Homo sapiens: one gene and its partners. The protein of the gene in region 2 purifies or fractionates together with the protein of the main gene of each other region. This does not show direct contact. Each region holds a gene or a part of one and is shown on either strand. Other genes may lie near its edges.

What was found. Proteins that work in one complex are often made in the same cells at the same time.
Region 1: the proteins of MINDY2 (region 2) and USP22 purify together in Homo sapiens (affinity purification with mass spectrometry; 3 studies listed by BioGRID and IntAct, with this or other methods). This does not show direct contact.
Region 3: the proteins of MINDY2 (region 2) and SLC27A2 purify together in Homo sapiens (affinity purification with mass spectrometry; 3 studies listed by BioGRID and IntAct, with this or other methods). This does not show direct contact.
Region 4: the proteins of MINDY2 (region 2) and ARL8B purify together in Homo sapiens (affinity purification with mass spectrometry; 2 studies listed by BioGRID and IntAct, with this or other methods). This does not show direct contact.

Annotation. Positions count from the first base shown.
Region 1 is NC_000017.11:21,008,512-21,012,011, forward strand, and holds part of USP22 (ubiquitin carboxyl-terminal hydrolase 22), read right to left. Parts: intron 2,799-3,500; coding exon 2,640-2,798; intron 1-2,639. UniProt on the Homo sapiens protein: Deubiquitinase that plays a role in several cellular processes including transcriptional regulation, cell cycle progression or innate immunity.
Region 2 is NC_000015.10:58,777,802-58,781,301, reverse strand, and holds part of MINDY2 (ubiquitin carboxyl-terminal hydrolase MINDY-2), read right to left. Parts: intron 1-3,500. UniProt on the Homo sapiens protein: Hydrolase that can remove 'Lys-48'-linked conjugated ubiquitin from proteins. Binds to polyubiquitin chains of different linkage types, including 'Lys-6', 'Lys-11', 'Lys-29', 'Lys-33', 'Lys-48' and 'Lys-63'.
Region 3 is NC_000015.10:50,202,696-50,206,195, forward strand, and holds part of SLC27A2 (long-chain fatty acid transport protein 2), read left to right. Parts: intron 1-2,543; coding exon 2,544-2,668; intron 2,669-3,500. UniProt on the Homo sapiens protein: Mediates the import of long-chain fatty acids (LCFA) into the cell by facilitating their transport across cell membranes, playing an important role in hepatic fatty acid uptake.
Region 4 is NC_000003.12:5,125,292-5,128,791, forward strand, and holds part of ARL8B (ADP-ribosylation factor-like protein 8B), read left to right. Parts: intron 1-3,168; exon of another isoform or gene 3,169-3,500. UniProt on the Homo sapiens protein: Small GTPase which cycles between active GTP-bound and inactive GDP-bound states.

The sequences.
Region 1 (3,500 bases), on a different chromosome or scaffold from region 2:
CTCAAAGGGTTCCGTTATATCATTCAGTTGACATGACATTCTGGAATTGTCAGGCGTATGGAAATGCAGGAGTCCAGGGTGACTGCGGTTACAGAGTGGGTGGTGAGGGAGGAGGCACTGGAGATGCTGGGTACTTTCCGCATGAATGTCTGAATCCTGGCCAGGGCGTCGCACCACAGTGCTGAGGAGGTCACCATCGGGGGACCGGGGTAAAGGGTACCTAAAGGCTTCTTACAACTGCATGTGAATCTACAATGATCTCAACATAAGCAGTTTAATGTAGAGAGGTGAGAGGTCGGCCAGGTGCGGCAGCTCACACCTGTAATCCCACCACTTTGGGAGGCTGAGGCAGGTGGATCACCTGAGGTTGGAAGTTCAAGACCAACCTGACCAACATAAGAGAAATTCCGTCTGTACTAAAAATACAAAATTAGCCGGGCGAGGTGGTGCATGCCTATAATCCCAGCTACTCAGGAGGCTGAGGCAGGAGAACCGCTTGAACCTGGGAGATGGAGGTTGCAGTGAGCCGAGATTGTGCCACTGCACTCCAGCCTGGGCAACAAGAGCAAGACTCCATTTCAAAAAAAAAAAAAAAAAAAAAAAAAGGCAAGAGGACTGGGAAAGGTAATTTCCTGACCGTGCAGAGGCAGGAGGTAGGAGGGCTGCATCAGAAGCGTGTCTGGCACAGGTGTCAGCTGCCACTGACAAAACCTGCAGAACAGATGATTCAACAAAGCACACGCCAAATTTTGAAGCTGAAACACCAGCAAAAAATTCACTCTTTTCACAAGCAGGTATGGAAAGCCCTTATTTATGCTCTGGAAATTCTGCCATCTTAACTAGGGCAAGACGAGGGGGCCTCTGGGCAAAGCTGCACCTGTTTCGTTGCTAGCTTTGTGATCTGCTCTCCAAAGGACTCGAAAAGGAGCCTTTGCTTGCAATACAAAGTGGGGACCCGGGTGCACTCTACCTCTCCTCCACCTTCCCGGGAGTCAGCACCACATCATGTCTCTCCTAACAACACAGGCTTCCCACACATTGTAGTTTGTGAAGTGTGGTTTCTACCTCATGGCCTGCTGTTTTGGCAAAGCTTTCATTTTATTGGAATTTATGATTAAATTTAATTTAGCTGCAAAGACTTTCTTTAAAAAGGTTTTGGTTGGCCGGGCATGCTGGCTCACACCTGTAATCCCAGCACTTTGGGAGGCCAAGGCAGGCGGATCACCTAAGGTCAGGAGTTTGGGACTACCCTGGCCAATGTGGCGAAACCTAGTCTCTACTAAAAATACAAAAGTTAGCCGGATATGGTAGCAAGCACCTGTAATCCCAGCCACTCGGGAGGTTGAGGCCGGAGAATCACGTGAACCTGGGAGGTGGAGGTTGCAGTGAGCCAAGATCGCGCCACTGCACTCCAGCCTGCACTCTAGAAAGAGCGAGACTCCGTCTCAAAAAAAAAAAATTAAAAAAAAAAAAATCACAAAATCAGCTGGGCATGGTGGCACACACCTATAGTCCCAACTACTCAGGAGGCCGAGACAGGAGACCAAGGCTGAGCCCTGGACACTGAGGCTGAGCCCAGGAGATCGAGGTTGCAGTGAGCTATGATGGCACCACTGCACTCCAGCCTGCATGAAAGAGCAAGACCCTATCTCAAAAAACAAAATAAACATGCAACTTTGGTCGTGCTGACTATGCAGCCAGACAGAAACCAAAGGCTCGTACCTCTTCTAAGGGATACTTCCACTCAACAAGGACTCTTCTGCATTACCTTTAATTGATGCAAATAAAACAAAGGCTATAAAATAATAGACAAATTTTAGGAAGGTTTTCTGCTGTCTTTACAATTGTATGCTACAGCTACTTAAATACATTTTTTTTTAAAAATCACTCACAGGTGTGGTGGCTCATGCCTGTGAGCACTTTGGGAGGCCGAGGTGGGTGAATCACCTGATATCACGAGTTCGAGACTAGCCTGGCCAACATGGTAAAACCCCCGCTCTACTAAAAATACAAAAATTAGCCAGGCGTGGTGGTGCACACCTGTAGTCCCAGCTACTCAGGAGAATCACTTGAACCTGAAAGGCAGAGGCTGCAGTGAGCAGAAATCGCACCACTGCATTCCAGCCTGGTCGACAGAGCACAACTCTGTCTCAAAAAAAAAAAAAAAAATCACTTTGTAAATATTATTACTTATCCCAAATGAAGCAGTACATGCACAATTTCAAAAACAGCCCTAAGAGTACAGAACATCACAACTAAGTTTTAATCATGTGCAGAGAAGGCCGTGGACCATGGGGAGAGGCCCGGGCGCATCTCAGCTCACACTCCGGGGTAGGTGATTAGTGCAAGGGCTAAGGGAGCAGCCAGTTTGGCTCTGGGTTCATTTACATGCGGAGGTTGGAGTAGCAGCTGCTGACACTGACACCTGGTGCTGTGCGAAGCTGGGGGACAGAAATATTGAGTCATCTGGCCAAAACAAAGGACAAACTAGCACAAGAGACTGCAGCCAATCCAGGCTCATGCTGCACCTTTGCCCAGGCTCTGTCCTGGGCATGTGAAAGAGCCCTGCTTTGGTCCTGATGGAGCACAGCCTTCTGGCCAGGAGACACGCCCCCGCCGTGTGGGTGCAGGCCTCTCACCGTCGCAGGCAGTCCGTGAGCGTGGTGGTTCCCGACACGTGGCTTTCCCCGTTTACCACGTTGCCCTCGCTCCCTGGGCTCAGGGGCCAGAATGGGGTGGAAGAGCCGGGGAGATCCAAGCTGATGTCCCAGAAGGGGTCGATGGTGGTGGAGACTCCACTGGAAGCAGAGGGAAAACAATGGCTGTGAGGACTGACACCCACCCAGCTCCAGAGGCAACCCGGGGTGGAAGCCGTTCCCACATCCCTTCCCCGCTGTGCCCTTTGTCACAGTGACACTCAGGTGGGATGGGGCAGGAGCAAGAGCAGCAGTGCTCACACCCAACGTGTCCTGGCTCCCAAGGTGGCCCTGGGGAGGGGTGTGTGTGAACTCGGAAGGCGAGGGGCGCTCCTCAAGCAAGGACTTCCCAGTCTGGAGACCATCACAGTCACTGAGGGACTTGGGAGGAGGATAAACTCATGGGCCCTGTCAGAGGCTCTGAATCCACAGGTCTATCTCAGCTGCATCTAGAACTTGGGGCCTGTGACCCTAGGCAACACTGGAGACCCCTGCACATTTCACAGAGCGTGCCCAGGCCAGGCCCGGTGGCCTGCACTGGACAGTCAATGCTGCATTTCACAAGGCCAGTTCCTTGCTAGAAATTTATTTAACAATATAAAAAATGAAAACTTGCAGACTGGGAAATTTACTCTCGATATTTATACAGGATTTAAATCTTGAGACAATCTCCTACTAATGGAATTCAGTAGTTAAGGGACAGCGAGGAGGTCCAAATTGCTCAGAGCAAACTCGGTTTCTAATACTCAGAGACAAGGCCCCAAACGGTCTATGCTCCTTATAGAAAATGGCCCCCGTGACACA
Region 2 (3,500 bases):
GGTGGGCTGATCGCCTGAGGTCAGGAGTTCAAGACCAGCCTGGCCAACATGGTAAAACCCTGTCTCTACTAAAAATACAAAACAATTAGCTGGGCATGGGGGCAGGTGTCTGTAATCTCAGGTACTTGGGATGCTGAGGCAGGAGAATAGCTTGAACCCAGGAGGTGGAGGTTGCAGTGAGCCAAGACCACACCATTGCACTCCAGCCTGGGCAACAAGAATGAAACACTGTCTGGAAAAAAAAAATTAACTAGTAAAAGAAGGCATCTTCCATTCAGAATTCACTATTTATATTTAAGAAGCTCAGCAAGCTTACTAGGCTGAAATATCTCCCCCCTCAAAAATTGATAATAAAACTTTTACATTAATTGCTTGAAAGATGAGAATAGGGTAAGACAAGAGACCATTTTGAAGGCTACTAAGGTAGTCCAGGTGAGAGATAAAGGCCTGAACTAGGGTAGTAGCAGTAGAAACAGAAGTTACTAATGACTGAAAAAATCCAAGAATATATTTAATAAACTACAATGGGAAAGGCCAGCTGATTCACCTTAGTGCCCCAAAGAGACTCTGAAACTAGAAGTGTCAGACACTTCAGGAGACATAAGATAAAGTACAGAGAGCTAAAAACCGGAGTCTGTATAAAGACCAACTGGTACCAAGATCCCAGGAATCGATCTAAGGAATCATGAAGTCCATTTCTGCTTCTCTGACTTTATCATTGGCTGTCCCACCCTGTTTTGCCCCAGACCTACTGTCCACCAGACTTATTGCTATCTTGAACTTTATCTTCCCAATCAAACATCCTGAGTGAGAGCTCTGGTTCTAGAGTGGGTGATAATCTTACCTTGGACTAGTTATTTAAACTTTATGCACTTCAATTTTCTTTCTTTTTTTTTTTTGAGATGGAGTTTCGCTCTTGTTGCCCAGGCTGGAGTGCAATGGCGCTATCTCGGCTCACCGCAACCTCCCTCCCAGGTTAAAGTGATTCTCCTGCCTCAGCCTCCCGAGTAGCTGGGATTACAGGCATGTGCCACCACACCCGGCTAATTTTGTATTTTTAGTAGAGAAGGGGTTTCTCCACGTTGGTCAGGCTGGTCTCAAACTCCTGACATCAAGTGATCCGCCTGCCTCGGCCTCACAAAGTGCTGGGATTACAGTGTGAGCCAACCACACCTGGCCTCAATTTTCTATATATATAAAATAAGAACAATAGTCTACATAAGGATTTCATGATGTGGTTGAGAAACTTAAAAGAGAAAACACATACAATGCATGTAAAATAATGCACAGTATCTGGACACAAAAATAACTGAGTACTTACTATTATTATTCAAAGCCCCTATGATTGCTAGTACCACCTGGGCCCAAATGTCCTTCACCTGGGACTCAACAGACAAGGTTGAATGGGGAGTGAGAAGGTTTTTAACTAAAAGACTACTCATACCAAGGGGAGAAGAAAAAATGAACACATCTATCACTATTAGAGGGCAACTCCTACTGGCGGTATTTATACTCTCCTCAGCCCTTGTCTACCTTATCTTACAAATCCAGAGTTACAACACCAATTCTAATTCTTGGAGGAGACTGGGAATGAAAGCCTCAGAAAATGTTACTTAAGTCTTTTGTGTAAACAAAACCCCACAATTGTGTGAAGTTTTAATCTCTTTTTACAGGATCTATATTTAAAAACAAGGTGGGCAGAGGCTAAGATGGAACCTTTGGCTCACCATCTGTTTTTCCTTTTTTATAAGTAATAAACACACTTGGAAAACCTCAAAAGAGCTCTGTGCTACTTCAGGAAGAGAAAATTTGTGTGATTACAATGTTTCTGCAAGTCAGAGGAAAAAGCATAACCTAGATGGAAACTAGGAGAGTATGTGAAAGAATCTGAGGGAAAAAAGTCATCAAGGAGGTAGGGAGAAATAGAGCAAAAACTCAGCCCTGGCAAGAGGCTCACCTTCATGGTGCCTCACTTTGCAGGTGATGAGACAATAGCATACGTCCATTCGAACTTTGAATTTTCTGTTAACAGCCTTTTGTTCATTTTGCCATTGTGCTGTTCACCCTTTTCTAATTTATAAGGGCTCTTTGTAAATTAAGAAATTAGGGTTGGCCATGGTGACTCACGCCTGTAATCCCAGCACTCTGGGAGGCTGAGGCAGGATTACTTGAGGCCAGGAGTTCAAGGCCAGACTGGACAACATGGTGAGACACATCTCTAAAGAGAAAAAAAAAAAAATGGTTGGGCACAGTGGCTCACGCCTGTAATCTTAATAGTTTGGAAGGCTGAGGCGGGCAGGTCACTTGAGGTCAGGAGTTCAAGAACAGCCTGGCCAACATGCTGAAACCCTATCTCTACTAAAAATACAAAAATTAGCCGGAAACTGCATGAACCCAGGAGGCAGAGGTTGCAGTGAGCCAAGATCGTGCCACTGCACTCCAGCCTGGGCGACTAAATGAGATTCCGTCTCAAAAAAAAAAAAAAAAAAAAGAAAAAAAGAAAAAAAATTAGGTGGGCATGGTAGCACACACCTGTGGTCCCAGCTACTCAGGAGGCTGAGGTGGGAGGATTGCTTGAGCTCGGGAGGTCGAGGCTATTCGGAGCCATGATTGCACCACCACACTCCAGCCTGGGTGACAGAATGATAGTCTATCTCAAAAAAAAGAAAAAAAGGAAATTAGCCCTTAGACATATAATCTGGCAAACAGTTCCCTTAGTTTTTAGTGTGTTTTGATTTAGTTTATGGTGAGGTTTTTTTTTTTGGTGTGTGTCTGTTTTTTTAAGCTTTTTTTTATTTTACAGAATCAAATATATTAATCCTTATTTTACAGTTTCTAGGTTTGATGTTTGGAGAAACCAACTTTATATAAAAAAAATCCTGCTTCAGGACCCTGGCATTCCTCCCATGACTTGGAACAGGAGATAATCTCAGCTTATACTAAGCAAAGAAAAAAATTGGGAAAAGAATTCCCTACCAAAAAGAGTTAAGAAGGAAAGGAGATGTGTTTCCAGCATCTTAAATTAGTGCATTCATTTTTCTACTAAAATGCTATACAATGACTAGATATTGCAATACTCTATCTTCTCTATCACAATGTATAGTATAGGTTACATGTAAGTTTTTTGTATGTATGTTGGCCTCAGAACCTATAACATTCTTTCTAAAATAAAAAAAAAGTATAACCAAGTAGGGATTCCCTCTATTACTAAAGAAATATCTTTGTAAGCACTAAAATATATATGTTATATACCTTCTGGCTTAACTTCATAAACACCTAATTACATGGGTCACAGCCCTCAAATAAACCTATAAATAGCACTTATTACAGCTAAAATAAGATTTTTAAAAACTATTAAAAATCAAATATAGTCAAAAAGAAGCAAAACAAAAATGTATTCTAAGTCATACATTTTGATAAATTTACCTGGTATAATTTGTAATTTGAGCCCAGGAGTTTGAGACTAGCTGGGGCACTATAGTGAGACCCCGTCTCCATAA
Region 3 (3,500 bases), 8.6 Mb from region 2:
CAGAAGGAACAGTAATACAAAATTTGGCTACGTTGCTGTCTGCTAGGAACAGTTTTCAATTTTGCATTAACAATAAGGCAATTTGAATCACATATTACAAGCAAGCATCTAAAATAATCTGTTTTTCATGCCTGCCTATCTAATAATGTAATGCTATAATTGTTCAGTATATCAAGAGACAAACTCCTTTAAAATATTTTAGGGCTGGGTGCAATGGCTCACACCTGTATTCCCAGCACTTTGGGAGGCCAAGGCAGGAGGATTGCTTGAGGCCAGGAGTTCAAGACCAGCCTGGGCAACATAGCAAACCTCATCTCTAAAAAAAATATATATATATATATATATAGCCAGGCATGGTGGCTCAAGTCTGTAGTCCCAGCTACCCAGGAGGCTGAAGTAGAAGAATTGCTTGAGTCCAAGAGTTCAAGATTGCAGTGAGCTGTGATTGCACCACTGCACTCCAGCCTGGGTGACAGAGTGAGACCTTGACTGTAAAAAAAAAAATTTTAGGTTATGACACTTGAGTCTTAGATTCTATGTCATGTCATTTCCATCTTTAGAAACTTGCATGTTAATCTCCATCAGCTTTAAACTTCTGCAGTTGTGTGCACTCTTCTGTAATCTCCCATTTCCACAGCTTTTCAGCTCTACTAGAAGGAGAGAAGATGGCAACTCCATCAGAATACTTGGCTTGGCTTGGCTTGCCATCTCTTCTGTTTCCTTCTCAGACTTTACTATTCAAATTGGAGTTGCCATCCTCTCTCCTTCCAGGAGGATTCATGTCACTTGTATACATTACCGCAAAGTTCAATAGCCAACTCTTCCAGGAAGCTATATGTAACTTTCTGACTGAGCTAAATAAACAACTTTTTCTCTCATGTGGCATTTCATTTTAAATAATCATATATGTATATATAAAAATATATACACATATGTATATACACACACATATATGCGTGTGTGTATATGCATGCATGTTATGGATGGATATTTGTGTCCCCCAAAAATGTATATGTTGAAATCCTAACCCCCAATATGATGGTATTAGCAGGTAGGGCCTTTGGGAAGTAATTGGGTCATGAGAGTAGTGCCTTCATGAAAGGTAGTGCCCTTATCAGAACAGGAGACAGCCAGCTTCTTTCCTGACTCTGTTCTGTTCCATGTAAGGACACAGGGAGATGATGACCATCCCCAAACCAGGAAAAATGCCCTCACCAGACACCAGACACCTTGATCGGGACTTCCCAGCCTCCAGAACTGCAAGAGATAAATGTTGTTTAAGCCACCCATCTGTACTATTTTGTTATAGCAGCTCAAACACACACACATACACACACACACACACAATCCAAAAATTTGAAATCCAAAATGCTCCAAAATCTGTAACTTTTTAAGCACCAGGACACCACAAGTGGAAAATACTACACATAAGTACTTAACACAAACTTTGTTTTATGCACAAAGTTATTTAAAATATTGCATGAATGGGCCAGGCACAGTGGCTTATGCCTGTAATCCCAGCACTTTGGGAGGTTGAGGTGGGCGAATCACTTGAGGTCAGGAGTTTGAGACTAGCCTGGTCAACGTGGCAAAACCCCATCCCTTCTTAAAAAATACAAAAATTAGCCAGGCATGATGGTGTCCACCTGTAATCCCAGCTACTTAGAGGCTGAGGCACGAGAACCCACAAGGCAGAGGTTGCAGTGAGCCAAGATTTCACCACTGAACTCCAGCCTGGGCAATAGAGTGAGACCCGGGCCAGGTACGGTGGCTCACGCCTGTAATCTCAGCACTTTGGGAGGCCAAGGGGTACAGATCACGAGGTCAGGAGATTGAGACCATCCTGGCTAACACAGTGAAACCCCTTCTCTACTAAAAATACAAAAAATTTGCCAGGTGTGGTGGCACGCGCCTGTAATCCCAGCTACTCAGGAGGCTGAGGCAGGAGAATCACTTGAACCTGGGGGGCGGGTGTTGCAGTGAGTCGAGATGGCACCACTGCACTCCAGCCTGGGTGACAGAGCGAGACTCTGTCTCAAAAAAAGAAAAAAAAATAGAGCAAGACTCTGTCTCAAATATATATATATAAAATACATATATATGTATGTGTGTGTGTATATATATAATATATATGTATGTGTGTGTATATATATGTATGTGTGTATATATATATACTTGAGACAGAGTCTCACTCTATTTATACATATATTTAGTATATATATAATATAATATATATATATATTGCATGAAATCTCTTTCCCTCTCCCCTCCCTCCCTCTTAGGACTTCATTTGAATCTCTTACTGCAAGCTAACTTTTATTAAAATGACCTTTGTATGAGTCTTCTCCTCCATAGATTGGAAGCCCCTATCGAACAAAACCATGTCTTACTAATTTTTTGCATTTGAATATAAGGTACTCAATACTTGTTTGCAAATATAATTTATTTTTAAATTTCTACCGTTCAAAGTTGACAAATTAAACATAACTGGGAGAATTTTTTCCACCATTTCTTTCTTGACACTTTCTGTGCTTTCTCTGTAGGTGCTACTCTTGCCTTGCGGACTAAATTTTCAGCCAGCCAGTTTTGGGATGACTGCAGAAAATACAACGTCACTGTCATTCAGTATATCGGTGAACTGCTTCGGTATTTATGCAACTCACCACAGGTAACACTCCCCCCGTTTTACTATCATTTTGAAATGGGTAAGATGGAAATTCAAGTCACTTTGGGTTGTGCTAGGCTTCAACTGATTTGCATATATCAGTTTTGAGTTTAGGATACAATTATCATGATAAAGTACTTGGCACTATACCTACCATATAGAGGGGACTTAGTAGGTGGGAGTTAATATTATTATTATGATGATGATTATTTCCTGCCTTTTTACTTGTTTTCACATCTTACTCCCCACCTAGCATATCCTGCATTTCCCCCTCTGCTTACTAAAAGCCAGTGTCAAAGCCCAGTTCAAATGATACCTCATACATTAAACATATTTGGGTCACTCCAACAAAAGTCATTACTCTTCTCCCCTACGTCATTTTATTTCTACCCTCTGTGGCCCTTGTCATGTTGCAGGAGTTTGTGTTCATGTCTCCCATCCTTCCTTGGCTGTAATATCTTTGATGGCTGGAACCACATCTTGTCTCCTTGTTTTCTGTTATACCGAAGGCATACAGGAAACTTTTACTTAATGCTGTTTAACAAATAAATCTCTGTGTGACTTTGAAACCAGCCAGCCAAGTCTGTCACCAAGCTGGGAACAGATGCCCCAGGGCATCTCCAATGGCCTTGGATCTGCCCTGTTTGCAGATGTTCAGCTCTCGATGGGGTTGTTCTCAAGAGCTCCTCCTGCCCAGTCCCTCAACTCTCATCAGAGATCTGGTATCAGATAGGATTTATCAATGGTGGCACTGCTGACATTTTGGGCTTTTAATTCTTTGCCGCGCGGACTTATTCTGTGCATTGTAGAGTGTTTAGCACCCTTTGGACTTTGC
Region 4 (3,500 bases), on a different chromosome or scaffold from region 2:
CTGTTTAATGCAGGAACGATGGCTTGAAAAATACTGAGAAGGGACTCAACTGGTATCATTTTCTACTTTGAATCACTGTATCTATCCAGATGTGGGCTGCAGTAGTGGATTTATGGATTGGGGAAAGTAATCGCATCATGTGTTCCCCCCTGCCCCGCCCCCACCATTAGATTATTATATTTAACAACAACAAAACTTCTGCAAAGCTGTTGAAGTCAAAGTGAACCAGTGGCTCCACCATTATCTTTTTTTTTTTTTTGAGACGGAGTCCCGCTGTGTTGCCCAGGCTGGAGTGCAGTGGCATGATCTTGGCTCACTGCAACCTCTGCCTCCTGGGTTCAAGCTATTCTCGTGCCTCAGCCTCCCGAGTAGCTGGGACTACAGGCGACTGCCACCATGCCCAGCTAATTTTTGTATTTTTAGTAGAGACGGGGTTTCACCATGTTGGGCAGGCTGTTCTCGAACTCCTGGTCTCAAGTAATATGCCTGCCTTGGTCTCCCAAAATGCTGGGATTACAGGCGTGAGCCACTGTGCCCAGCCCACTGTTATCATTAGACTATTCTTTTTAAAATTGTAATGGTGTGGGTAGCTTCAGTTAAGAAAAAAAAAGTCACAAAGATAAGGTGATGGATGTGTAATTGGCTTGAATTAGTCATTCCACACTGTAAACATGTATCAGAACATCTCATTGTACTCCATAAATGTATACAATTATGATTTGTCAATTAAAAGTAATATTAATTTAAAAAAGAAAAAAGACATCTGGGCTGTAATTGGCTGTGGCTTTTAAGATGCTGAAAGGGACCCCCTCAGTGAATTTCATACTTTTTTTTTTTTTTAACCTCAAGGCTCTAACCTAACCCCTGATTCTTATAGAATATGTTGAGGATGTAGTGATTAAAATCCAAGTTAGTGATTAAAGATGATTTTAGAGATTTTTAGGTAGAAACAATGTGTCCAAAATAGTAAGTTTAGCCTTTTAAAAAATCAGCTGCACTTTTTGTATTGTATATAAAATAGTTGCTTTATAGAATCAGAAATACAGATGTATTGAGTACTATGTGTCACTCTAGAAAGGTGACCATTTACTTATTCACATTTAAGAAGCGACTTCTCAGGTATGAAAAGCTTCAGCTGAAGCCAATTTTCTTTTTGTAAAAATCAACATTTTGTAAACATTAAAATGTCACTACATGTGCCTTAAACATTAAGGAAGATTTAATAGATGTCATTTAACTTACTCAAAAGGTTCATGAGACTGAATTACTATTATATGTAGGGTTTGGTTTGAGTCTAAAAGATAATGCAGCTTAGTTACAGAATGCTCAGACTTAGAATGCCTTTCCTTAGGATTTTAAAACTGAAATGATACCTAATTTAATCCAGTTTTATGTAGAGACACTTGATATATGTAGTGTTCTCTTTTGTTTTGAACATTATAAAAAAGAAACACCCTAGTCTTGTCTTTTCTGATTAGTGTCAAGGAATGAAGTATTTTTTCCATTGCTAACTGTTCTGGCAGTTATTGCACAATAAGTCATGTGCCTATATGTGTAATGTATATTGAGTAATCTTTATTTTTAACTGGGGCTTTTAGATATGTTATAGTTATTAAAAAATATCTAATAGGATTTGCCAAAATAATATAGGATAAATCTTATGGACATTATGTATTTTTTAAATGGAAGTATAAAAATTTGTCTACACTTTTGCACATTGTTGATACCTGAAAGGTTAATCCAAGGGAAAGTTTATTACTGCTGAGAATTAGGAAAAGAAGATATTTGGGAAGACTGTAGAAATATGAACCTAGAATCATTTTTTAAAGAGTTTGTAGAAACCTTGATTAAGTAGTCTAATTTTCCCCTCATTTTTTAGATGTGGCTAGCAGATCCAGTGAGGTTAAGTGGAATTCCAAGGCAACAAAGCTAATTCGTAGCAGAGATAGAATTAGAATCTGGGGCCAGTGTACTTTCTACTTTTCCCACCTCTTTAGATCCAGCTGAGGTTAGAACCATAGAACTGTGGATTGGGAGATCTTAATCCATTAAACATCTTTTTTGTATTTAATTTAATTTAAAAAATCAGCTGCAGTTTTTGTATCGTATATGAAATGTTTGCTTTATAGAATAAGAAATACAGACGTAATGAGTACTGTGTGTCTCTCTAGAGAGAGCATTTTAAATCCAGGCATCTTAAGCATACTGACTAACATTTGAGGACTATATATTTATCTATGAACATGAATTAGGAGAAGGAATGATAATCTGTGGAAAGTAAGAGTGGAATATTATGTTTGGATATTTAAATAACTGGCTAACAGGCATTACTGAGTTGTTGAACTACTTTTAGTATCTTTAAAAAGCAGAGGGAGATCAAGACCATCCTGGCTAATGCGGTGAAACCCCGTCTCTACTAAAAATACAAATAATTAGCTGGGTGTGGTGGTGGGCACCTGTAGTCCCAGCTACTCGGGAGGCTGAGGTAGGAGAATGGCGTGAACCTTGGAGGCAGAGCTTGCAGTGAGCCAAGATTGCGCCACTGCACTCCAGCCTGGGCAACAGAGCGAGACTCCGTCTCAAAAAAAAAAAAAAAAAAAAAAAAAAAAAGCGGAGGGCCAGGCGCAATGGCTTACGCCTGTAATCCCAGCACTTTGGGAGGCCAAGGCGGCCGGATCATGAGGTCAGGAGTTTGAGACCAGCCTGACCAACATGATGAAACCCCATCTGTACTAAAAATACAAAAATTAGCCTGGCGTTACTCAGGAGGCTGAGGCAGGAGAATTGCTTGAACCTGGGAGGCGGAGGTTGCGTTGAGCCGAAATTGAGCGACTGCACTCCAGCCTGGGCAACAGAGTGAAAATCCGTCTCAAAAAAAAAAAAAAAAAAAAAGCAGAAATAATTTTGTATTTGATTGTATTGCTTATTATTTAATTTCTTTGGAGGTAAGAATGGCAAAAACCATTTTTAAAGAAAATGGGCTGTGGTTCAAGTCTAGATGTTTTACACATCTGAAACTTGACTGGAGAAGCTAGTCTTCCAATAAGGTGGTCTTCAAGTATAGATTCTGAGTTGTGGAAAATGAGGCATCTTACAAAGGAACATCTCTACCTTCCATAAAGTTTTCTACCCTTCATCCCCGCTCCAATTATTTGTTTTTCCTTGCAGACCAAGAATCTTGAAAGCCAAATGTTCTCATTAAGAAGCTGTTAGAGTGCAATAATGCATTCTAAATGCCTGTCTTAGAAGATATTTCACAAGTTAATGGATTTTTTAAGTTTTTCAAAGATATAGTAAGTGGATGGTTACTGAACATGGATACAAAATACATTGAACCTATAAAAAAGTTACTCAAATATTATTAAAAAATTTTTTTTCTGAAATTTTTTTTGTGTTATCAAAACAATACAGGCTCATTAGCGGAGATGTGAAAAGAATAGTATAAGGTAGAAGAAGCCACTTATTTCTACCATCCAAGATTAACTACTGTCAACATTAAA